Regions from separate parts of the Homo sapiens genome. Here regions 1, 2, 3 and 4 are each linked to region 5. Evidence: fine-mapped QTL for protein levels in blood plasma. A gene starts in region 5. Each other region holds a variant in brackets. All regions are shown on one strand. Distances are from middle to middle. Region 1 overlaps CA12 (carbonic anhydrase 12). Region 2 has its middle 36 kb from the start of APH1B. Region 3 overlaps CA12 (carbonic anhydrase 12). Region 4 overlaps HERC1 (HECT and RLD domain containing E3 ubiquitin protein ligase family member 1). Region 5 holds the start of CA12 (carbonic anhydrase 12).

Evidence for each region. PIP is the chance, under the fine-mapping model, that this variant and not a neighbour inherited with it causes the effect. The UK Biobank Pharma Proteomics Project read protein levels with antibody pairs (Olink). The fine-mapping took linkage between variants from a reference panel, not from the people measured, so its PIPs are less certain.
Region 1: its variant is fine-mapped to the plasma level of the CA12 protein (UK Biobank, PIP above 0.99).
Region 2: its variant is fine-mapped to the plasma level of the CA12 protein (UK Biobank, PIP above 0.99).
Region 3: its variant is fine-mapped to the plasma level of the CA12 protein (UK Biobank, PIP above 0.99).
Region 4: its variant is fine-mapped to the plasma level of the CA12 protein (UK Biobank, PIP above 0.99).

What each region holds. Positions count from the first base shown.
Region 1 is chr15:63,336,146-63,341,249 of GRCh38, forward strand. CA12 (carbonic anhydrase 12) reads right to left here. Exons shown (of 11, transcript NM_001218.5): 6 at 4,575-4,638; 7 at 4,143-4,300; 8 at 2,674-2,800. All of the region lies in intron 1 of LOC124903506 (a long non-coding RNA gene), which reads left to right. Among named protein-coding and RNA genes, the nearest start is that of CA12, 43 kb to the right of the region's middle. RefSeq lists an enhancer at 2,084-2,980. The variant C/T (reference allele first, on the strand shown) is at 2,825.
Region 2 is chr15:63,311,257-63,316,360 of GRCh38, forward strand. No RefSeq gene overlaps it. Among named protein-coding and RNA genes, the nearest start is that of APH1B, 36 kb to the left of the region's middle. The variant A/C (reference allele first, on the strand shown) is at 2,499.
Region 3 is chr15:63,321,524-63,326,627 of GRCh38, forward strand. It overlaps CA12 (carbonic anhydrase 12), which reads right to left. Exons shown (of 11, transcript NM_001218.5): 11 at 1-4,834. The coding sequence ends at 4,762. All of the region lies in intron 1 of LOC124903506 (a long non-coding RNA gene), which reads left to right. It overlaps LOC124903505 (a long non-coding RNA gene), which reads left to right. Exons shown (of 2, transcript XR_007064675.1): 2 at 1-873. Among named protein-coding and RNA genes, the nearest start is that of APH1B, 46 kb to the left of the region's middle. The variant C/T (reference allele first, on the strand shown) is at 2,042.
Region 4 is chr15:63,752,455-63,757,558 of GRCh38, forward strand. HERC1 (HECT and RLD domain containing E3 ubiquitin protein ligase family member 1) reads right to left here. Exons shown (of 78, transcript NM_003922.4): 5 at 3,983-4,294; 6 at 2,775-2,871; 7 at 2,051-2,194; 8 at 504-631. Among named protein-coding and RNA genes, the nearest start is that of HERC1, 79 kb to the right of the region's middle. The variant GAC/G (reference allele first, on the strand shown) is at 2,676.
Region 5 is chr15:63,378,787-63,383,890 of GRCh38, forward strand. CA12 (carbonic anhydrase 12) reads right to left here and starts at 3,060. Exons shown (of 11, transcript NM_001218.5): 1 at 2,850-3,060. The coding sequence starts at 2,934. RefSeq lists enhancers at 2,744-3,264, 3,265-3,784.

The DNA of each region.
Region 1 (5,104 bases), 43 kb before region 5:
ACGCTGCATTTGGGCTTTGATCTTGACGTCCTAAGCTGGGAGATGGTCTCCAGACTTCTGCTTAGAGGCCCCTCAAGCTCCCCTATCCAGACTGGGAGAATCTACTGAAGCGCTTGGCTAAAAACCTGCCTACGCTGCCCCACTACAAGCAGCTGCTTAGACACAAGCCGGTCTAAGAAGATGGCTAATTATCCCCAATGCCATAGTCCATCGTTACAAGCGGGGGTTACTTTTGGATGTCAGAGTCAAGCTCCTGCCCGGTTTCTTCTGATCCTCTGTAACTGCCCTCAAACACTGTCCCTGCAATGTAAAGTCAGGATTGGCAGTTGTTAGTGTCCACTTAACCATCACAACATATTAGCACCGAAAGGACATGAGATCACCTAATCCAACCTGGCTTTTTTTTTTTTTTTTTTTTTTTTTGAGACAGAGTCTCACTCTGTCACCCAGGCTGGAGTGCAGTGGCATGATCTTGGCTCACTGCAACCTCCACCTCCCGGGTTCAAGCGATTCTCCTGCCTCAGCTTCCTGAGTAGCTGGGATTACCTGGCATTTTGTGGCTGAGGAAACCAAGGCCTGAAGAAGGGACACGATTTGTCCACAGCCTGCAGCCAGGAGGAAGCAAAGCCAGGCCTTGAACCTAGGCCTCCTGACTGTAAGGAGAATATGTGCCACCCCTTCCCTGGGTGTGCATAGGTGAGCTCAGAGAACAGAGCCGGCAATGGGGTCCTGGGATCGCGAGCAAAATTCTATCTGATCTATGTGGGCAAAGTTCCTAATCTCCTGGCAGAGTTTTTATGTTTTTGGTTTTAAGAGTTGAAGTAGTTCCATTTAACCCTTGGATACTACATTCTCCACTTAGAAGAATGAGAAAAGACAGCGTTGTATCCATAACAGATACATTCCATGCACTCAGTTCATTTCCTAGAAAAGAAACTGTTAGTTATCATCACATGGATTTTGAATTTTCAGGAAGGCTACTGTTCACAGATTCTGTTTTCCAACTGAGAAACTGAGGAAAGAGGGAAATGATCTTAATTAGTTGTACCTGGAGAGGAGAAAACACAAAAGACAAATTCTTGGGCAGTTCTTCATGAAAAGACAGAGAATGATGTAATCCTGACCGTAAGGATGGGTCAGTTTCTAAAGCTTCCTGGAAAGGGCCTTCAAATACAGTCTCCATATGTTCAACTAAGTTTAGGAGGTGATCGTTATAACCTCATATAATAAGAAAGGAACCCAAAAAAGTGCACCAGGTGAGACGAGGAGAGCAGATTCTGACAAGTGGGTTAACGGGTTTCTTTTGTTTTTGTTTTTTGGTTTTTTTTTGAGACGGAGTCTCGCCCTGTCACCCAGGCTAGAGTGCAGTGGTGTGATCTCGGCTCATTGCAACCTCTGCCTCCTGGGTTCAAGCGATTCTCCTGCCTCAGCCTCTTGAGTAGCTGGGATTACAGGCATGTGCCACCACGCCCGGCTAATTTTTGTATTTTTAGTAGAGACGTGGTTTCACCATGTTGGTCCGGCTGGTCTCGAAATCCTGACCTCATGATCCACCCACCTCGGCCTCCCAAAGGAGGCAAGACACCGTGCCCGGCTAATTTTTGTATTTTTAGTAGAGATGGGGTTTCACCATGTTGGTCAGGCTGGACTTGAACTCCTGACCTCAGGTGATCCGCTTGCCTTGGCCTCCCAAAGTGCTGGGATTGCAGGTGAGAACGGGTTATCTTTAAATATGAACGCCAGGCCCGGTTTGGTCCACACGTGATGCTGGGGATGAAATGGAACTGCACAGACCAGCCATGAAGATTCCCAAGCTGGGAAGCAGTCGAGAATCTACAGTAAGAAAGTGAGCTTGAAAGTGAACTCAGAGGTCTGAAGAGGGGTGTGGGCCCCAAAAGTGCTCCCTCACCCCTTTCCCCTGATGCCCAGTTTCCAGCAGTGTTGATGTAGGCACTGAGCAAGGAAAACGGTTAATGTTCTACTGGGGAGTTATTGGTTACAGCTGTGAAAGGGAGACCCGAGCCCTTGTAGCATTAGGAAGAAACCAAGCTATTAAGTTTTGTTCAATTGGGAACTTATGTGCTTGTGCTTATGCAAGCTCCAAGGAGGTTAGACAAAAATGCAGTGCACAAGGGTGCTTCCTTGCCTAACAGGCCCTGCTACATTAGACATGGTTGTGGGTTACACTCACTGTTTTACATCTAACATAGGAACATTCTTGCTCATTTGGTGGTGGTGCATGAATCACCTGGCCAGGCCTAAGATAGGCTGGCTGCAGCCTTTGATGCCAAGAAAGCCTAGGGAGGGAAGTTAGAAGTCTGATCTCATGGAAAGGGTCCTATCCTGTGTCTTAGAGAAGGGATCATTGTCTGGAACAGAGAAGTCCCCAGGGAATTCTCTCTTACCCATCTGTGCAAGACTCCCAGGCTTAAAGAGTGCTCTGGTCCATGTGCCTGGGGGCCTCGGCTTTTTGCTTCTCTGCAAAGACTCACTGAAGGGGGGACCCCAGTGAGCCCCACACCTAGTCTCACAAGGCGCCTGGTTCCCGTGGCAGCCAGGGAGCTCTCAGCCAACTTCTTGAGGGCATCAGTGCCAGAGCTGCATTCACAGAAGATCCCAATGTCTTGGCACCACACTCCCGCACCCCCTCCCCCCAGCACTGCCTCTCCTCACCTTGGGAGAAGGAGGTGTATACCAGCCTCTCATCGAACTTCTGGACCTGCCGGAAGTTGTTGATCATTTCTCTGGGGGAAGGGTCGTCCATGTGTGTGCAGTACAGGGCTGTCTCCAAAGCCAGCAGCTGAGGGCAAGAGCAGAAATAGCC[C/T]GCAGGCAGAATGACCTCCTCACCTGATCCCCTGGGAAGAGGCTAGCTCTCCGCTCTTGCACCTGGGAGAAGCCTCTGGAACCAGCTTCTGTGGGGCCGGGTGGGAGATATTAGAAAGCAGAGGGAAAGCCACAGAACTGCTTCCCTCCACAGTGGGTGAGTGGGAGCTGGGCAGCGCTGGGTTTATCTTCCCAGCACCCGAGACTTCAGGGAAAGGCAGTGCTGTTAGTTTCCAATTATACCTGGAATCTGCCCTGCGTGGAGGGAAACCTGGGGTGATGGAGTGCTCCTTAACCTCCACAGAGACTGAGTTCCTCTCATGAACTTAAATTAGAGGCCAGCTCTCAACCAGAGGGTCGCAGGGCTTGTTCTGATGGTCATATCAGAAGGAATAAAGGAGGGAGTTAAGAGTTTCACAGGCCATCTGATTGCGGGTTCCATGGCATTTTCATGCACCTGCATAGATTATATAACCCTTTCCCAAGGCAGTTTCTGAGGTAGGATGTTGCTGCTTCCCCACATGTTTCATCCATCTCTTGGTTCATCATGTCCTCATTCCTGTCCACCCACCTGCTGCCATTTACCAGGTGACTCAGAGCAGAAGCTTACTGTAAAGAGGAGCAGCTGTGAGGCTGCCCTGGACGCATGAAGCTGGCGTGGGGCTGTGAGCCAGGGTGTAGTGCTGGCCCCAGCCCCGTCTCCTGGGGAGCCATTTTTCTTCTCATGAATTTAGGCTGTGGAGGACAGGTATGAGCAGTGACATGGAACTCAGATGACCTAACTTTGGGTCTCAGCTTTGTCACTAACCCGCGGGTGATCCCACAGACTTCTACTCTTCTCTCTCATCTCCTATCAAATAAGAAGCTTTAGAGGTGATGGCTAAGGATTTTGTTCCCCAGTTTGCACTAGACCTTGAGCTTCTTGGGGGCAGGGACCCTCACTTAGTCATTGCTGCAATCCCATCTCTTAAATGATTTCATCTGATCCTGTCTTTATTCTGCCCTGTAAAGGAACCAGGCTCTCTCCTGCCTGGGAAGTGAATACCACCCAGCCACTGAGGATATATTAGCAAATGCAGATTTAGAGCTCTTTTTTTTAAAAAAGAACTAGGAGACATCTATTCATTTGCCTAGCTTGACTTCTTTTGAAGCTCAGCCTGGAATTTCTGCGGTGCTTTCAGACACCTGTGATATTTGGAGAGGTTTTGAAGAGCTGCCAATGAAACTAAATGAGGAAATCAAGTCATTGATTGTGATATGGAGGATGATGGGGACTGAGGTGCCGCGTGGACTCTGGCTGAGTCTGGCACGACAGTTACCTGCTCCTGGGAAATTTGCACGGGGTTTCGGAAAACTGTCCAGAGCACAGTGGGGTTGCAAGGGGGTGTGGTCAGGGACCCCCGGTAGCGGTAATATTCAGCGGTCCTCTCCGGAAGCAGCTCTTCAATGTTGAATCCCGGGACGAATGCTTCCTGGCCTAGAGAGACATGTTGCAGAGGTGATAGTGTCAGCCTCCCTCCGTAGGGCATAAGTGCAGCTGAACAGAGCGACTGAGCCTAGAAACATGAACTAGCCCCTTTCAGGGTCATCTAACCCCAGGACCTGGTTGCAACATTGTTCAACAACCTGCTGCTCTTAACCTGGTGAACACAGACAGCACCTGCCCCTTGTGTTTGCTTTTCTTAAAGTCACACAGGGCTGACTACCTCCTTCTCCAGCAGAGAGTGAATATGCATGCAAGGACCCCTCACCTTTGTACTTTACATGTTGAAGGTGACTGAAGATCTTGTCATAGGACGGATTGAAGGAGCCCATCTGCAACAGAGACAGGGCAGGTTAAACTGGGACAGAACAGGATAGGCTGAGCCAGGATTGACGATTGCTATCAGAAGGGCAAAGCTGTGGGTATGTTGCCACCACTGCCTGAAGGATCCACTTTACTGGACAATTATGATGGATCACTAGGCTCTTGGGAGTTAGTGTAATGGTCCTGCCTCTTGCATCTCAGGACGTCCTGTTTTCAGCTTAAGGAGTTGGGCTTGAATGTCCTGGGGCATAGGGTACCGTGTGTGCTCTTGATGATCCAGATATGAGCCTGAAGGCTTTGACTAACATCCATGTCACACAGAACTTAAGGAGCTCTGAGTTCACAAAAGCCACGTCAGACAAATGAGCATGTTGGGAAATGAGGTACATACAGCCTCATTAGGAAAAAAAAACATGCAAGCCAATCAGAAGACATTCCTCTATCTTGGGATAAAAAAAGAATTCATTCCAGGGT
Region 2 (5,104 bases), 68 kb before region 5:
TCTTAACGTTAAATGCTTATATTAGGTAAGGAAAAATATTCAAAATCAATGACCTAAGCCTCTACTTAAGAAACTCGATAAAGAAGAGCAAACTAAAGCTAATATAAGGAGAAGAAATGAAATCATAAAAGAACAGGAACCAAATAAATAGCAGTAAAACAATGGGGAAAAATGAAACAAAAATCTGGTTCTTTGAAAAAAACCAATAAAGCTGGTAAAGCTCTGGCCAGATGGAAAAAAGAGAAGGCACAAGTATCAGTAATGACAGGAGACGTCACTATAGGCCCTACATTATTAAATTAATAAAGGATAGTATGGATAACTTTAATGCCAATAAATTTTAAAACGTAAATGGACAAATTCCTTTTTTAAAAAAACCCACAAAATTCACTCGAGAGGCCGAGGTGGGTGGATCACCTGAGGTCAGGAGTTTGAAACCAGCCTGGCCAACATAGTGAAACCCCATCTCTACTAAAAATACAAAAAATAAACCAGGCGTGGTGATGGGCACCTGTAATCCCAGCTACTTGGGAGGTTGAGGCAGAAGAATCACTTGAACCCAGAAGGCGGAGGTTGCGGTGAGCTGAGATAACACCATTGCACTGCAGCCTGGGCAACAAGAGTGAAACTCCGTCTCAAAAAAAAAAAAAAAAAAAGAAAAGAAAATCTGCATATCCTTCTATGTCTGCAGACTTTGTTTTTTCTTGCCTCTTAATATGCCTTGTAATTATTTGTTGAAAGCTAGACATCGCCTCTTGGGTAATAGGAACTGAATTTTAAAAGCCTTGAGTGTAAATTTTATGTTAATCTAGGTAGGAGTTGGATTATATTTAATGTTTGCTGTGGCTGTTAGTGCCAGAGGCTTCGAATTCCTCTGGTGGTCTTGTTTTTGTCTCCCCTTTTGACTGTGGAGTTCCCTCAGTGCCCCTTTTCAGAGAAAGCCTGTGTCTTGCAACTCGTTCAGCTGTAATCCACTGTAAATTAACACTAGAGCCCTGTTGGTATGGCAGTGCGATGTGGAGGAGGGGACATGTATAATAATAAAATTATAATAATAAAATCTAAATCTCAGTATTTTCATGGGCCTGAATCCCTGGGCTGAGAGTTTCTTAACTTTTTCCCCCTTAGATAAGACAGGAAGCTAGAAGGTGGCTGGAGAAGAAAGGTAACTTTCCCCAGCTGGGTTACGGCTTTGGTAAAGTCTTTTTCCTTGGAGAGAGGCTTTTGTTGTGGAAAACACTCTGGATGTATTTTACAATGAAGACAGTATTTCTCACCCTTACACTAGTCCATACTCAGACTCCAGCAATTTGTCAACATTAGCATTTAAGTGTTACTACCAGTTTATGGCTCCAGCAGCTTGCACTCCAGGTAAGCAAATCTCAGCTGTGACTCTGGATTCACCTCTCTCTCCAGATTTTGGAGTGGTGGTTTACCCTGAGACCTCAGTTCTCTGATGGGTTCAAAAGAATTGTTGATTTTTCCATTTGCTTAGCTTTTTCTTGTAAGGATGGGAGTGATGGCTTCCAAGCTCTTTATATGTTAGAGCTAACTGGACATCCTCTGTATCTATTAAATACGTTGAATTTGTAGTTTTTATAAAGAAAACAATTATTAAAATGTACATGTTTATAGGCAATATAGAATCACTATTACACATAACTTTTTGTTCTGTAACAACTAAACAAAATGTCATGATTGAAATTTCAATTCTCCATATTAAATGGCTATATACACACTATGAAAGAATACCTGGTATGCCAATATTTAAATTTTTTGATAATTTATCAAAGGGATAACTGAACTTGTGTCCTGTTAATTTACCTAATCTAGATCGGATTGATAACAGTGCCACTCGCAGGGAATAAAGTTGTGTGAAATGTTTCTGTTTATCCTACTAGATACCAACATATATCACAAATCTGCACTCATGGATATGAATGTAGAGTTTCAGAACAGGCCCGGGTATATATGGGAATTTCATTTATGGTAAAATTGGCATTTTAAGTCAGTGGGGAAAGCATATGTTATTCAATAAATGGGTCTGTTTGATCATTTATTTGATTATATTTGGGAAAAAAAAGCAAAGCTAAGTTTTTACTTTCACTTATTTAAACATATTAAAGATTCAAATGCAAAAAATAAAACCATAAAAGAATCTTTTAAAATTAGAATAGTTTTATAGTCTAAAGGAGGAGAGCTTTTCTCTACATTTCACTTAGGCTACAAACTACAAAGAGGAAAGAAAACAGATTTGACTACATACAACTTTAAAACTGCAGTGCAAAAGACATTCTAAACAAAGAAGACGGGGAGAAATATTTTTGACATATATAGAATTGTCACCTATAATATATAAAAAGCTTCTATAATTAAAAAAATTAATGATACAGTAAAAAGAGATCAAAGCATATAAACAGATAATTCACAGAAAAAATGCAAACAGTCAATAAACATAAAACAAAATGCTAAACCACGAATAATAAAAGCAAAACAAG[A/C]AAATAATTTTGGACTATCAGATTATCAAGGGTGAAAAGGATTGATAATAACAAGGATTGTTGAGCATATGGTAGAAACGACATATTATGAAAAAGGATATTAGTACAACCCTCGGGTGGTAATTTAGCAGAATCTGTTACATTTATGCAGTTTTGAGATGTGCATATTTTGAACCAGCAAATTCCTCTTCTAGGAATTTGTCCCATAGAAATGGTGTGTCAGAGGAAAAAGACCACAAACTCACAGTTTTTTCTATTCTCTGAACAAGCAAGCAATCAGTTCTGCTGCAGACACCGGCTGGGTGTCCTCTAATTCAATTCCAACACTGTCTGCCTGGAGATAGCATCAGATCCCACAGGTTCAGGGCTCAGTCCCCAAAACCACGCTCCCTTCAGACACCAGTTGCATATCCAGGCCTCCTGAACTTCAGACTGACCAACTTCAAGTTGGGGTTCCCACAACCCTGCTTTGGGGTTCAATTAATTTGCTGGAGTGGCTCACAGAACTCAGGGAAACACATTTGCTGGTTTATTATAAAGTGTATTATAAAGGATACAGATGCAGAGATTCATAAGGCGAGGTGTGGTGGAAGCGAGATACAGATGCAGAGATTCATAAGGCGAGGTGTGGTGGAAGCGACACAGAGCTTTCATGTCCTCTCTGGTGTGCCACCCTCCAAGAACCTCCACACGGTCCACTATTGAGAAGCTTCCCAAACTCTGTCCTCTTGAATCTTTTATGGAGACTTCATTACATAGGCATGATTGATTAAACCTTTGGCCATTGGCTGTCAACTTAATCTTGAGCCTCCTCTCCTTCCGAGAGGTTAGGGGTAGTAATCAAAGACCCAACCCTGTAATCCTGCCATGGGCTTTCTGGAGACCAGCCCCATCCTGAAGCTGCCTAGGGACTGCTAGCTTTCAGTCAGTCATCATGTACAAAAAGACATCTCTTTGGAGATTCTAAGGTTTTAGGAATTGTTTGCCAGGAAACAGAGATGAAGATCAAATATATATTTCACAGTATCACAGAAATACATCCAAGTACACATGGATCTTGTAATAGTCTTGTAACAGTAAGGAATTTGCAGCAAGTGCCTATCAATAGGGCATTGCATCAAGCAGCAGGACATTGTATAGCCACTGAAAAGAATGAGGATATCCAGGATGTGCTAGAAAACAAAAGCAAGAATAAAAGATAATTCTTTCATCCAACAAGTATTTCTTATGCCAGACATTGTGCTAGATACTGAAAATTTAAGAATGAAAATAGGCATGATGCTGGGCCTTGTACAGCATATAATATAGAATCCTATTAATACATTTTATTAAAAATTTAAAAATGAGTATAAAAATACATATGAATATACATAATGTCTGGAAAATAAATTGTTAGCTAAAGATAATTGTTTAGCCTAACACTAAATTGTTAAAAGTGACTATTTTGGGAGCTAGGATTATGGGGGGACTTTCTGCTTTATACACAATTATTTGCATTTTTCAAAAAAATAGGCATGCATTATTTATGTAATCAGACAAAACCATAATCTAAGCACTTTCATGATTTCTCTTTGTCCTTGGTAGAAAGTGGATATTATTCAAGGTCTTTTGTAATCTGATCCCAACCACTTTTTTCTGTCTCCCACCTGTAAACCAAAGAAAAAGACCGAGGCAAGCCTCAATTGAGAGGTTTATTTTGTCAAGGTCGAGGATGCACCTAGGAAAAAGGAACACAAATCACAGGAAGTCTGTGATCCATGCTTTTTCCAAAGAGGGTTTTAGGACTTCAATATTTAAAGGGAAAGAAGAGACCATAGGGGAAAGAGGAAAGAAAGAAAAGGGAGGAGGGGGGCTGGGCACAGTCACGCCCGCAATCCCAGCACTTTGGGAGGCCGAGGCGGGCAGATCACGAGGTCAGGAGATCGAGACCATCCTGGCTAATAACGGTGAAAGCCCATCTCTACTAAAAATACAAAAAATTAGCTGGGCGTGGTGGGCACGCACCTGTAGTCCCAGCTACTCGGGAGGCTGAGGCAGGAGAATCGCTTGAACCCGGGAAGTGGAGGTTGCAGTGAGCCGAGATCGCACCACTGCACTCTAGCCTGAGTGACAGAGTGAGACTCCATCTCAAAAAAAAAAAAAAAAAAAAAAAAAAAAAAGGAAAGTAGATAAAAAAGGCAAGAGGTTACATTATCTCAAGACTTTGATTAGGCTTTGATTCGTGCTCACTAAGTCTGCATTTTACTCATGAAAGGAGGGGGTAGAGGAACAGTCAATTATGCATTCATCTTGTGCTCCGAGAATCTGCATTTTTCTGTAAGATAAACACCGAGTAGAGGAAGCAGTCAAATATGCATTTGTCTCAGGTGAGTGAAGGGATGACTTCTGTCTTTCTCCCATACCTGTGAAGATATGCTGTTAATTTACATTGTCGGGGGAAATCCAACAGAATTGTTTCAGGGTAAATATCTTGGGGCCTACAAGGAATTTCCTTGTAAGCAAATTATGTGGAGGGGGGCTCTTCCTGGGGAGGGACTTGGCCCTCTATTTTTGCAGCTAGCTATTTAGAAACAAAATGGAAGGCAGTTTTTGCATGACTCAGTTCC
Region 3 (5,104 bases), 57 kb before region 5:
CTCACATCCTGCGACAGCTGAATCCGAGCCCGAGGACCACGTGCGGGGCGGTCTCCAGTGTGGATGGCAGCCCGGCTGGAACGCACTGGCAGGTGGTCCCTGTGCCCCAGAGGCCCCGTTTCCTTCCGGAAGCGAGGCTGCAACTGCTCCAGATACCCAGCAGGAAGGCCACGTGACAACGGGAGGGGCACTCCTGTGTGTGTAGGGGCGAGGGGGTGGCGGTGCCAGGGTCCTGCAGTTCACCAGGTGCCCACGTGCCTGCCACCCGAGCGCCATTCACTCCCGACCGCGGGGACCTGGGGCACAGCCGGGCCCACTGCGGCGAGGCGAGGAGATGTGGGGAGAGGAAGAGCGGCGTCCACGATGTGCTCATTTAGGCTTGATTTTCCTCCTGCCCTCCTGTCTCCCTCCCTGGCTTCACCCACAAGGCTTTCTTCTCGGGCTGATTTCTGTGGGAGCTCTCTAGGCAGAACCCTCAGTCTCTGAAAGTCGGGTTCGTCGTCCGGGTCTGCGCAGGGCATGGATCTTGAGCGCTTGGAATGTGACTTAACTGAGAAACGCTACTTTATTTTAATAAGTTTACATCTAAAAGCCGATCATTGATTCCATTATTTGGAAAACAACTTCTAAGTGTGTTTGGAGCAACTCGGATATTGGAATCTTTTAAACTGTAAATTTTATGAAATCTAAATAACGACCAAATATCTACAAGGAAAATCTAGCATCTGAATCGAGTGTGCTGTCAGTGTAAAACACACACCAGATTTCAAAGATTTACTGCAGAAAAAAACACATGAAAATACTGGTTACATGTGGAAATGATAGTATTTTAGATCTGTTGGATTATCTAAAATTAAATTTAAATTAATGTCACTGGTTTTTTTTTTTTTACCTTTTTCTAGTGTGGCTACCGGAAAGTTTAAATTTCATACGTGTCTCATGTTATATTTTATTACATTTCTCTCGGCCTGTGTGCTCTAGATGGTTGATTTGGCTGGATTGAGATGAGGTGATGGCCATCCTAAAGGAGGGCCTGAGTTCCCTCTGCCGACCTATGGCTCTCACTGCTATGCCTCCCTGATCATTCAGCCAGTGGATGTGGAATTCAGGGAGATGAGAGATGCTCATTTCCTGCTCCAGGAGTGCTCTCCCCAGTGGGGTGGGAGCAAGTCCAAGGAGTGAGTGCTTCGTGGGAACTCTGGCTTCCCGGCTGTCTTCATGCCTGTGCGTGGCCATGACACCTGGCAGGATGCCAGAGCAGGGAGAGCAGAAGCATCCTGTGTTCTAGCAGAGTACAGACCATCAGAAATGTTTCAATTCCAAAGCTGGGCCAGGTACTGTCACCCACTGGAGCCAAAGTACCCTTGAACAGTTCACCTCTCTCAGGCTTAGGGTGATTATAGTGAAAATTGGATGCTTTTCTAAATAAGGCAAACAATGATGGTACCTATTTTATAACCTTTACTGGACTGCCTCTTTTTGCCCCAGTCAGAATGTGAAGTCTGGATTTAGACAAAAGATTATTTGGACGGGTGATAGTATGTTTTGCAAAAAGAATTCAAAATAAGGTAACAGGCAACCAAGAGGGGCTGCCCACCTACTAGGTTTAATACTCTCAGGAGTAAAGAGACATAGGACCTGTTCCCTGTATCATGTCCCCTTGGTTGGGAACACCTCCCTCTTTTCCATCCATCTGTTCAAATCTGAGCTATTTGTTCAAGGTGCAGCTCCGATCCCACCTCCTCCAGGGTCTTTATTTAATTCCTCTAGGCTTCCCAGCACCATTAAGCAGCTTCGCGACCTGCAGCCACACATGCCATAGGCCTCCATCCTCAGGAAAGTGATTGAGTCTATCAGCTTATTTTCCTTTGGAGCCAGGTTCTAAGAAGTGGATGCGAGTGACATTATTATTCTGATTAGTTACCTATCCCCATAACAGGGAGCTACAGAGTGCTTTGCAAATAGTAATGCTTTAACCTCGCCTCCAAAAAAAAAAAAAGAACAGCCTGATGTGAAAAACATTTATAATTTCTTGTAGTTA[C/T]AGTGTGTATCTTCATTATAATCATTCTTACAATAAATACAGAAGTGCTAAACAGACCATTATCACAGTGGCCTGTGGGCTGAGGCACAGGAACTGAGGGGTGCTGCAGACACCAGTGCTTCTCCAGGGCTGGCCAGGACACCTTCAGAGAGGCTAGTGAAGAGGAGAGGAATGTAGGGTGAATTTGAAATGTGATTAATAGAGTCAATGCAGCACATGCTAGAAACAGATACAGAGTTTTTTGTTGTTTTTTAACTATTTTACCAGATGATACTAACTAAACAAACAGAACAAAGAAAGAGATTCAAGATCTCACATGAGTGAGAATCCAGGGCCTTCCCCTCTGGCCCTGGCCCCAGCCTGGGCCTTGTTTTTGCTATTTCCACCTAGGCATCTGCCATGCAGCAGAGTTAGGAGCGTGTGGGCGGCTGCTGAGACTCACACACCACAGTACTGGCATCCTTCAGGGGCAGCTGGCATCAGTGGAATGAGTGCGGATCCGAAGAAAGGTTTCCCAGTTCCAAAGCTGGACCCACAGGAATCCTGTGAGGATTTGCAAAGACATTGATAGTGTTGGTTCTTGGAGCATCTTTCTGCCTCCCGGGCTTTGTCTGGTCTCAGCCTCGGGGCTGCAATCCAGGGCTGTGCTGAGCAGCAAGAGGAGAGGAGAAATGCCACTGTCTTGCACCTCCCAGTAAGTCTCCCTTTTCATGAACAGCCCTTGTGCCAGGTACAATGGTCTCTCTGTTCTCTCACAAAACTCATCCACAAAAGATATACAGAGTCTTTTGACAGACAGTCCCACTGCTCTGGAGTCCTTTATGTTCATTTCTGATTGACAATTTTGGACCAAGGCCAAGAGGCCCCCTAATTCATGTTGCTTCGTCATGAGGGTTGTCCTTGTCATCTGATGATGCATGAGGCATGCTAATGGCAAGGCCGGGATGCCACCCCAGGCTTCGAGGCTGTTAGAGGTCTTGAGTGCACACACACACACAAACACACAGAGAGACACACACACATTTGAGCTCCCATTAGGTCACTTGTAACTTTGCCTAGCAAAACAGGCTCCCAAGACATAAGGCTTGCCATCGTTGTGAAAAGTTGTGATGGTACAGAATAATTTTTTTTTTTTTTTTTTTGAGATGGAGTCTCGCTCTGTCACCCAGGCTAGAGTGCAGTGGCATGACCTTGGCTTACTGCAACCTCCGCCTCCTGGGTTCAAGCGATTCCAGAAGAGAGAATTCTTAGAGTCAGAGGGAGGAGTAGAAGGAAAAAGATATTTAAAAAGCTATGCTTCAAGAGGACATTTCATGCTGTCAAAATGAGACTGTGAATCAGAAAGTTCTCGGGGAACTGCAAGGTGCTCTCAACTAGGGGTCGGTTCCTTCTCAGTCATGGCACTGACTCATCTCCACAGGGTTCTCACCTGCGGGAGGAAAATGGAGGAGTTGCGCCTGTCAGAAACTGTCTGTGTGATTCGGGGAAGAATATGGAGTATCTTAGTAGCATTCCATTATTACTTGCCCCTAAATACATGATGCCAGCCCCCTGCACAGATAACCTCCTGCTTTTATAGCTTGAAATATATTTGATCTAAACCACGATTTGACATCTTCAGAGAGAGAGAAGTAGATAAAAGTCTCCATTCCAGGTTGGCAGTAGGGATCCTGCAGAAGTGGCTGAAATGAAATTTGGCCTACAGAGAATAAGTTCTACAGTCATTTTGTTTCTGCCTATTTCCTCCAGATTCAAAGGCAGATTGGGTCATCTCGGAACTCATGTCTCCTCCAGGACACAGCAACAACACATTTTCAAGGAACAGCCTCATTATTTGTAAAATCTGTAGAGTATAAAACATAACTGCTCCACTGACAGGAGGTTGGATTTGGACTTAATATTGTATTATTCTGTCCTTACATTATGGCTTGATAAACAGAATGTGATTCCAATTCTGATTCCAAAGTGAGACTCTCCCAGATCATCCATGTCTTCTCATTCTCTTTGTCCCTCTAGCTCTCTCTCCCTTCTCATCCCCACCAAGAAGTGGAACTTGAACCTGCCATTCCCTAAGGTCTGTGCAGTGTCTGTGATCCAGAGGACAGGACTGTGAAAGTGTCCCTAATATATCACAATGTATATCTCTTGTTTTCTTTTTCTCTCTACAACTTGATCCTTCCTGTCCCCATTTGTCCCCGAGTTGTAAGGTGCAGATTAAAGGTTTTGTCATAGCAGAAGGAAATCAGAGGGAGATGCCCCGTCTCCAGAGGAAAGAAGTTGAGTTTCCCAAGCAAAACCTAAGCAGAGAGTGCACATTCTTGTCTGAAAGCTTGGAGAAGCAGCAGAATTTCCAGGACACTTGAAAGCACGCTCTGGCAAAGCCCCGGATGAAAGTGTTTTCCAACCATTAATGGCCCACCAGCATGGCTTGGTTTGTGATTCCAGAATTCAGACCACTTCACAATCTCACACAGTTACAGCAAGCAGCTTTGAATTCCTGCTGCTTGGTCTGAGAGTGCATCCCATCCATCGATCGGATGGCTCTGGGGTGGCCATGGTCCCAAGGCAAGGAGGCACCCAGCAGAGGATCCCTGAGGCCTGGCATGTTTGCAGATTGAGCTACAGAGAACACCTTGAGGTGTCGCAAGTGTCCAGAGAGCCGAAGTGTGTAGGGTCCAAAGCAAGGTCCTTCCTGGATGTGCCCGGGAGCTCCGGGGACCTCAAGCGTGGGCCTCAGTCTCCATCTTGGTGGCTGGCTTGTAAATGACTCCCTTGTTATCACCTTTTTTGATACTAGAACAGAAAGAACACATAACTCTTGTTAGAGAGGAGAGCGAGCGAGCCAGAGAGCAGCCTGACTCAGGTATGGAATGAGGCCGTTTTTAAAAGTTGGATTCCTCTCTTTGGGACCTTTCCCCAATTCTGTTGGTCTTGGGAGGGAGTGTCACCAAATAAAGCTTTAACAAAAACAGAACTTGTTCGTTTTCCAACTGTTCTCTTTCACACCTAACAGTAGTAGACCTATATTTTGAAAGAGGTCTCGTTGTCACCCCCCTCTTCAAA
Region 4 (5,104 bases), 370 kb after region 5:
AAAAGTACAAAGCTTATGAGCCTTTATAAAGGCTCATAAAATTCTGACTATCCTAAGCTTGACTTCACACTGTTTCTCAGAAACACCTAACTCTCTCAGAATATTTTCCATACCTAAGTGTTCTCTTTACCCTCCTTTTTGATCACCCTCTTGCCTTCTTAGTTCATATCACTGGCTCCATCAAGATCTAGTTCAGCTTTCCCCGACTATCCATAATGTTTTAGAAAAGGTTTAAGGGAAGCTAAATGCTAAAACATTTTAGAAAGTCAGTTTAATACAAAGAACAGAGGCTCCACTAAGATTTATCTGGGTCACATATGCCAGGTTAGAAAACCTGGTTCCTTCTCAGATACTCTACTTCAAACAGAAGAAGATATTTCATTTTAGCATGTTGCCTAAAAATGTATTTATTTGAACTTTAAAATTTAAATACAAGTATTACTTTTTAGTCACCTAATCCTCTGAAATACTCTAAGTCTTTTATACTCATCCCTTAGTCCTACCTGCCCTGTTGATGTCAAAGCAAGTGAAGACTGGCTCCCAGCACAAACTTTGCGAATGAACATTCCTTGTAAAGCTTCAATAACTTTAGGTTTATACACTCTGTTGGTATCACCATGACCAAGTTTACCTATAAAAACAAACACATTAAACAATTTACTTGTTTTAAAGAACCTCTACTCTTTTTAACACTACTAAAGTTGATAAGGAGCTCTAATGTTTCCATCACTAACCTGGCAGATATGAAAAGCTATGTTTCTGATAGCTGAGGATGTTAACAAACGAGCATTTTTATTACAAGAAAGTTAACAACCACTGATAGCCTTTTATATCTTAATTTCAAGCAATTAAAATCAAGCAATTTAAAATCACTTTAAAAGAAACATAGACAATTATTTTTCTGTCTTTCTCCCCCTTTAATGGCTATATTTCTAACTTCAAATTTGCTGACAAAATATACAGGTACTATATGCGTATAATTTTTCATAAACTTTAAAAAAGAATGTATATGCATATAATTTTTCATAAACTTTTTAAAAAATCAATAGCTCATGAAATTGAAAACTGGACAAATCATTAAAGAAGAAAAACAAATGGCCAATCATCTACAAATCCAACCACACCAGGAATAAAAAAAAGTATAAATTAAATGATACCATTTTCACTATTGAAATTATTTAATTAAATTTAATACATGCTGTTGTTGAAGACTATGGGGAAGTAAGCATTCACACTGCTAGTAGGAGTGACTAATTAAAGTAGACATAGATTTAGTCATTCATTGTGTTGTTAATACTGAAAAAAATTGAAACCATCTAGATACTCAACAATAAGAAACTGGTTTTATAAATTGTGCCACCATCAAATAAAAGAACACTTCAAGCCATTTAAAAGAATGATGTAGAGTCATGCTTGTTGATATAAAAAAGATACTCATGCCGGGCACGGAGGTTCATGCCTGTAATACAAGCACTTTGGGAGACTAAATCTGGCAGATCACTTGAGCCCAGAAGTTCGAGGCCAGCCTGGGCAATAAAGCAAAATCCTGTCTCTAAAAAAAATACAAAACTTAGTCAGGCATGGTGGTGCATGCCTGTAGTCCCAGCTACTTGGGGGGCTGAGGCAGGAGGATCGCTTGAGCCCAGGAGGTTGAGGCTGCAGTGAGCCAGGTTTGCATCACTGCACTCTAGCCTGGGTAACAAAGCAAGACCCTATCTCAAAAAAAAAAAAACTATTAGAGTAAAACATATATATGTCAAAACATATATAAACTTATATAAAACATACACATGTAGGTATACTTTGGTTTTTAAAAACACATCTAAGTAGAAATATATGTAAATATTTGTATAAATGTGTATTTATTTAGAAGTCTATTTCCAAAATGTTAACAATGGTTAAAGTAACATTTGTAAAAGCTCAGTTCATTTTTTAATTTCTGCTCATCTGTATTTGAGTCATTCTACACTAGGCATATATAACTGAAAAATAAATTTTTAAAAAACTCAAGAAAAAAGCCAAAGCTACTGATAAATAATTTTTTACATACCATTGTCTCCTCCTCCAAAAGACCATACAGTTCTCCCATCTTTAGACAGAGCAATAGTATGTGAACTGCCACAAGAAACCTCTCCTACATTGCTGATGTCTTTTACTAATGTTGGAATGTTACGACTATTGCTGTCACCATGACCTTGGATAAAACACACACAACAACAAAGAAACAACATTAACTCTTTTTCTCTAGGCCTTGACTTCACAAGTATAATAAATGTTACAACTTTAAAATAGAATTGAGATTTTTTTAATGCAATGCAATATGAAAAACACAATCATTTCTAACATCTTCTCAATCTTCCAAGGTGCTCCTAAACTGGGTCATAGAGTCACTTCGGTGAACCATTAGAATATTCTTTTCATGCTCCCCTCACAGCACTTACCTTGTGTTGTCCTGTTTCATGCTCATGTTGACTTGTTTTCATTACCCACTAGATTATAAACTTCAGGATCATGATGGTATTGCTTTTATCCCAGAAACCCTACAATGCCTGGTCATAATAGGGCACACTCAGTAAATGCTTGCTAGATTTAATTACATTTAAATATCAGCACTAAAATCTAGGTCTTATCTATATAAAATTATCTTCCTCTGAGCTTAAACTAACAAAATAAAT[GAC/G]AGTCTTTGGCCTAGTAAATCTGCTCTCACGGCTTCTCAGTAACTTAATCATTTCTAATTTTCTAGAAGAATAACTTACATTTTTAAAAAATCTTACCTAATCTTCCAAAGTCTCCTTCACCCCATGTGTATAATTCCCCATCCTCTGTGACAGCAGCACTATGTCTGTATCCAGCTGACACACAAACAACTACCTGCATTGCACACAAGTAAATACGATGAGTATGCACATGTTAAAACATATAGTCCGTATTTGATCCTATACACAGAGACTTCACAGATACTAATATTCACAACCCATCCAGGAATTTCCAGGTACAGTTGTGGAGGCTGTGTTCAGGCCAAGGATGACTGGCTAAGAGTTCAAGTAAGTGCTGAAATACATGCCTGTAATCCCAGCACTTTGGCAGGCCAAGGCAGGCAGATTGTTTGAGCTCAGGAGTTCGAGTTCAGCCTGGGCAACATGGCAAAACCCTGTTTCTTTTAAAAAATATGAAAATTAGCCAGGCATGGTGGCGCATGTCTATAGTCCCAGCTACTCAGAAAGCTGAGTTGGGAGGACCACCTGAGCCCCAGGAAATCAAAGATGCAGTGGGCTGAGATAGCACCACTGCACTCCGGCCTGGGTGACAAAGTAAGAACCTAACAAAAAAAGAAAGAAAGAAAAGAGAGGAAGAGAGAGGAGGGGAGATTAATAAAAAGAGAAGATATGAGCTCAGTTTCTTATGGTTCCAATTATTTGTGTGGGTCCTTGGCAATTACTTAGGTACTCTAAATGCCTCCCCATTCAGGTCTCTATTAAGATGCCACCTCTCCTAAGAGCACTCTCTGACCTACCTCATTACCTAATACCACACCTGCCCAAGGTAACCTTTATTGCTCATTTTTTTCTTTAATATTATCTGAAATTATTCTATATGCTTGTTAACTTATTATCTCTATCCTGAAGACTAAAGGATTAAAGTAGAGACCTTATCTGTCTTGTTCACTGCTACAAGTCTAATGCCTAAAATACTGCCTGACACTTCAAAAGTGCTAAATGTTTGTTAAATGAATGACTCTCAGTTTGCTTATCTGTGAAATAGGGATAATAACTACCTTACAAGAATAATTATAAGAATATAAGAATTAAAATTCAATAATGTATACAAAGGTGTTCTGTAAACTGTAAAGCAGAGATACAAAAGATTAAGCCAAAGGGTTGAAGGGGCAACTGCAGAAAGAACACATCAAAATCTGAACGACATTGTCAATTACAACTCCAATGCATCTAATTATTTTTATAACCAAAAAGAATGCACATACCTTTCCTTGTAGAGGTCCCTGAATAAGCTTGGGATATTTCTGTGTTGAACTATTTCCATGCCCCAGTTTCCCATAATCACCATCTCCCCAACTGAAGACTTCTCCTTCTGTCGTAAAGGCTAAAGTGTGACCATCAGATCCTTTAGAAGATGAAACCTTTTTAATGGATCTGTGAGGCTCGAATGTTAACTTTTTTAAAGTTGACTGATTATTGGAGTCTCCAAGGCCCAGTCTCCCATAGCTGCCTTTCCCGCAAGCTCTAACAGAGCCATCCGTAGAAATGACAAAAGTGCAGTACTGTCCAGCTTCAATCTATAAACAAAGAATCATAAATATAAAATACTTCTGTGAGTATCAAAGTATAATATTTAAGGCTGGTTTTATCAAAGAGCCTCAAAGGAAGTCTTTTAGCAGGATACGGCATGATTCTCCAGAGAGATTAAGGAATATACAGAAATCTAAGAGAACACGAATGGCCTTTTCATGCTCACAACTTTGTTGCTGAGTTCAAATTCTTCATGTATATGTTATCTTTCCAGGTTATTGTCCAGGTTATGATTGAATGAAACAACAAAGTAAAACGCTTAATATCCTCTTATAACTGAGAATGGCAAGACATAAAGTTTTCCTTCCTATAAATTCCTTAGGGTACATTATGGCAAGAACCATATAAAATGTATTCTAAACCTATTTGAAAAAAAAATACATTTTAATGAAAGTAATAATCAAATAGAAAGTTCTAGCTGGGCTACAAATGTAAAAAAAAAAGTGATCATAAGAAAATGAAATGCTAATCTAGCAAAAAGAAATTCCAGTTTTTATTTACTTTTTTTTTTTTTTTTTTTTGAGACAGAGTCTCGCTCTGTCACCTGGGCTAGAGTGCAGTGGTGCAATTTTGTTTCACTATAACCTCCACTTACCAGGTTCAAGCAATTCCTGCCTCAGCCCCCTGAGTACATGAGATTATAGGCACGCGCCATCATGCCCGGCTAATTTTTGTAAATAATTTTAGTAGAGACGGGGTTTCACCATGTTGGTCAAGCTAGTCTCGAACTCATGATCTCAAACGATCCACCCGCCTTGGCCTCCCAAAGTGCTGGGATTACAGGTGTGAGCCACCAT
Region 5 (5,104 bases):
ATGTAAAATTCCACAAATAACAGAGGAGTTCACCCTTACTTTTCCCCTGAGGAGGCACAGGCCACTCCAGTGATCCTGGAGGCCACTAGAAACACATCTGCTGCCTGAGCACTGCTGCCTTGCCAGCAGTTTGCATTGTACCTGCTCACATTCAAATCATAGCCTTATACCCTACATCTTCTGCTACCCTCCCAGGGCTCGCTAATCAAGGTTTTCCCTGTTGTTGGAGTTCTCATCCTCAGATGAGGCCTCAGCATCACACTCTGGAAAGCTCAGGGCTAAAAGTCATAGAGTGGACATCTGGGACTGTGAGGTCGCGGTGGTGACATAGGACTGGGGACTTGTTGAAAGGCAGCAGCCTCCAGAGCAACATTCCCTGCCCTCCTCTCTGTGAGTGAGCTGGCTTGGGACTCCAGACTCGGCACTTTGGGTATAAATGGCAGTGTCTGGAGGGGCTCAGGAGCTGGAGGGCTGGGGAGAAGCGGCGTTGTAAGTGAGGATGGTGAGTCAAGGGGGTTCATCGGGTGAGGATCAGGGCCCCAGCTCAGCTCTGACCTCAGGAAGTCTCTCTAAAAGTGTGTGTATGTGTGCGTGTGTGTGTGTGCACGCGCACGAAAGTGTGCTTTATTCAGGAATTGCACCCCCTGGTTCCCCACTTCTAGCTGTAAGAACAGAAGGCTTAAAAGGATTAAACTGATTCCACAAGCGAGGCCAGGCCAAGGCCTCAGTGGCATCCTGAGGGAGCAGGCCCTTCCTGGAGGGGAATAGTTTCCTTCCCAAGGAAGGTTATCTGTTCCATCTGGGAAACCTGGGAGGCTCAGCCTGAAACCTGTTAGAACCTGCAGACCCAGCTGGTACTGGGCAGGGAGGTTCCCCTGGAGGGAATGCCCAGAGAAAATGGTATTTACCAAGATCCATATCAGAGGTCCTGGGCCCTGCCTGCTTCCTGTGCTGGGTGCTAGAACTTTCCCTGAGTAACCATCTCCTGGGTAGCCCAAGACTGCCTGGCTCTCCACACCAGGTTTGGGCAGGGCAAGCTCTGCAGAATTCACTGAAATGCCCCCCAAAGCCACGGCAACTAAGAATTCCAAGGGTTTCTCCAGAAGACACTTGACTTCACATTATTATGCTCCCTCCTGGGCCCCTGACATTGTTCTTGAACATTCTCCAATGCTGGAAGTTTAAATGCACCAGGCAGAGAGCAGATCACACTTTGACCCCATTACTCAGCTTAACTCCTCTCCACCTCCAACTTTGGGTTCATGCTGACATTCTACACCTCAGTGATTTTTGCTTTGACCTGTCCTCTAAGGCAGTTAAAAACCCAAGGAAACTGCATGAGAATTTACAGAATAAAAGCTGTGCTCTACCCAGGGGTAGGCAGTCTCCTTCCTCAGAGTGAGGCGAAAGTGGAGTTTTGACTACAAACTTCCCCAGTCCCAACTTGGAGAATTGGGAGAGGAGATAAGGAGGAGGGAAAGGGAGAGGGAAGAGGAAGAGCAGGGAAAGTAGGGAAGAAAGGAAGGGGAGGGAGGGAAGAGAACAGGGAAGGGCAGGAAAAGAGAGAGAAGGGAGGCAGAGCTGCCCCAGAGTGAGAGGAGCAACCAGCTATAGGAAAGAGGGCCAACTAATGGCTGTTTCTCCCTTTGGTCTTGGAGCAACTTAGGACTAAAGAGATTTCCAGGGAAACTTTGGTCTCAGTGCAGCTTTCGTAAAAGGAAACATGTAAAGTTTGTGGTTTTAAAACTTGATTTTCACTTTTACATCGCTCCTTTCTCCCAACTTCTGTTACATCGCTTCTGTTTCTCCCTGACCAGATGAGGGAGATAATATCAAGCACATCATGCCAGCTAGTTGACTGGAATTTAATTAAGAGTTATCCACAGCCTGGCTCCCCTGCCCTTCCCCATGGGCACTGTGACCTCCAAGAGAGGAGGCTCAGAGCTTTTATGCTGCTGAGCAGGACACATTTCCCACCACCACTGCCTCGCCAGGAAGAATCTAGTTTCAGCCAGTAAAATCACTTTCGGTCCAAAATCACTTTCTTATTCCAAAAGATTAATGAACCAGCCTTGGCTGTACACGTGTTAGCTCACTGGCCCGGCGTGAGCCCACAGTTCAGGTCCCCTCTGCCACCTCCTCCTGTCACTCCACGGAGCCTCCATTCAGTCCCTCAGCCTCCAGCCTTTTGGGATTTAGTGTTCTAATTACAATCAGAAATATGCTGTGTGTGTGTGTGTGTGTGTGTGTGTGGTTTGTGTGCGTGCGCGCGTGCGTGTGTGTGTGTACGTGCACACACACGTACATTCAGCATAGTAGAGCCCTCCTGGAGAAAAACAATGATTAAGAATGGGATGCATCATCCCTTTGACTTGTAGGTAAGACTTAATGGTAAAGATCCTCTCCTCCAAAGAAAAGCGCCTACCACTGTCTGCGGGTTCTGCACAGGGGCACAGCAAACCTTTCTCTGTGCTTACCCCAATCAGAATGCCACAGTCATGTCTCTACTTTCTAAACGTGGATCAGGGGAACGCTGTTTTAAATCTTGGCTTTGCATCTCCTCCCTGGTTAGCAAGTTCCCAAGCCACATCTTCAGAGCTGGCGGTGCCCGGGAGTACACGCAAACATTTTAACACCAAATCTGCGCCAAGCGCCACTAGAAAGCAACGTGCTTCCCGACCCAACCTCAGCAAAGGAAAACGGAGCATCCTTTCTTGAGAATCTACTATTTGGTACTACACCTTCCCTGCTCCCCGCAGCAATGATTTTACTTTATCATTGAAGAGCCTTCAGCCCAGGGGCGGCTGAGCGCTCAGGAGTGTTAGGAAAGAAGCAGGCGGAAACTTTACCGTTCACTGGGGCCGGGCTGGAAGGCTGTTCCTTTAAGATCACCAGCAGGAGCACGGCCGCCGCGTGCAGGCTGCGCCGGGGCATCTTCGCGGGCTCCTGCGGGGCGGGCGCGGGCTGTGCCGGGGGCTCCCGGTGGCCGCTCGCTCTCCAGCTGCACACCGGGACCGCGTGCGCGCAGCCTGGGTGCCGTGGCGAGTACGTCCGCCCTTCGCTCTCCTGGCTTCCCCGGGCAGCTTTTATGGAGCAACTCAACGCCAAACACTTGATGTCATCGTGCGGGGAGGGGGTGGGGGAGGAGAACGCCCTGCCCACCGGAGGGCTGGCGCCCCAGATCCTAGGTGAGTTGTAGCCTTGACTTCAGCAGCACTCTGCGGGTCCCCGGCGCTCCTCTGGGCCAGGGCTGACCCAGGAACACAGTTCTCCGAGGAGCTGCTGGCAGGCGTGGGTGAGATCCGCCTGTCTCACATCCAGAAGGGTGCGTCTAGGGATTCCTTCAGTGGCATGCCCTTGGTCTGTCACTGGTCCTGTAACAGCCCAACGAGTTCACCTTGCCCGCTGCTTAGACAGAGCCCATTTATCAAGACAGGGGAGTTGCAATGGAGAAAGTAATTCACGCAGAGCTTGCCGTGCCGGAGACCGGAGGTTTTCGTTCCTTTGTTTGTTTGTTTGAGACGGAGTCTCGCTCTGTTGCCCAGGCCGGAGTGCAATAGCGTGATCTCGGCTCACTGCAACCTCCGCCTCCCGGGTTCAAGCGATTCTCCTGCCTCAGCCTCCCGAGTAGCTGGGATTACAGGCACATGCCACCATGCCCAGATAATTTTTGTATTTTTAGTAGAGGCGGGGTTTCGCCAGTTTAAGGCTGGCCTTAAACTCCCGACCTCAGATAATTCACCTGCCTTGGCTTCCCAAAGTGCTGGGATTACAGGCGCCCACCACCACACCCGGCTAATTTTTCTAATTTTAGTAGAGACGGGGTTTCACCATGTTGGCCAGGCTGGTCTGGAACTCCTGACCTCAAATGATCCACCTACCTTGGCCTCCTAAAGTACTGGGATTCCAGTACTCAAATCAGTCTCCCCAAGCATTCCGGGAGTTGTTTGTTTGTTTGTTTGTTCAGACGGAGTCTCCCTCTGTCGCCCAGGCTGAAATGCAGTGGCATGGTCTTGGCTCACTGCAACCTCTGCCTCACGGGTTCAAGCGATTCTCCTGCCTCAGCCTCCTGGGTAGCTGGGATTACAGGCACGCGCCGCCACACCCAGCTAATTTTTGTATTTTTAGTAGAGACGGGGTTTCACCATGTTGGCCAGGCTGGTCTTGATCTCTTGATCTCGTGATCCACCTAAAGTGCTGGGATTACAGGCGTTGAACCACTGCACCCTGCCTCTGGGAGTTTTTAAAGATAATTTGGCAGATAGGGGCTTGGGACTTGGGGAGTGCTGATTGGTCAGGTTGCAGATGGGATCACAGGGGGGTTGAAGTAACGTTTTCTTGCAGTCTTCTGTTCCTGGGTGGGATCGCAGAACTGGTTGAGCCAGATCACACACGGTCTGAGTGGTGTCAGCTGATCCATCCAGTGCAGGGTCTGCAAAATAGGATGTTAGATTTTACAATAGCGATGTTATCCCCAGCAGCAACTTGGGAAGGTTCAGACTCTTGCAGCCTGACGCCGCAGGACCCCTAAACCATAATTTCTAATGTTGTAACTAATAGATTAATCGTACAAAGGCAGACTGGCACCCAGGCAAGAAGGGGGTCTTTTCGGGAAAGGGCTATTATTGATTTTGTTTCTGAGTCAAACCATAAACTGAATTCCTTTCTAAGGTTAGTTTGGCCTATGCCCAGGAATGAATAAGGACAGCATGAAAGTTAGAAGAAAGACTGAGTCATTTAGGTCTGATCTTTGTCACTGCCATAATTTCCTCAGTTATAATTTTTGCAAAGGCTGTTTCAGCCCTACTCAGAATCCCCCAAGTATAGTGCCATTTGGGCAAAAGCCTCCTTCATGCTTTTTTTTTTTTTTCTTCAGGTGCCTGCCTGGACTTAGCACAGGTTAAGGAACTGGACAAGATAGTTACATTCACATGAGTTTCTGCCAATTGTTCAGTGCATCCTGATTAAGTTCTTACCTTCCAAGTTGAGATGCAAAGAGATGAACTGAGAATAGGAGAACAGCACAGTGGGGTACACATGAAGAGCTTATCACAATTCCCCTTAGTAACGGGTAAGTAGATGGGACTCATGCTGGTTCAATACA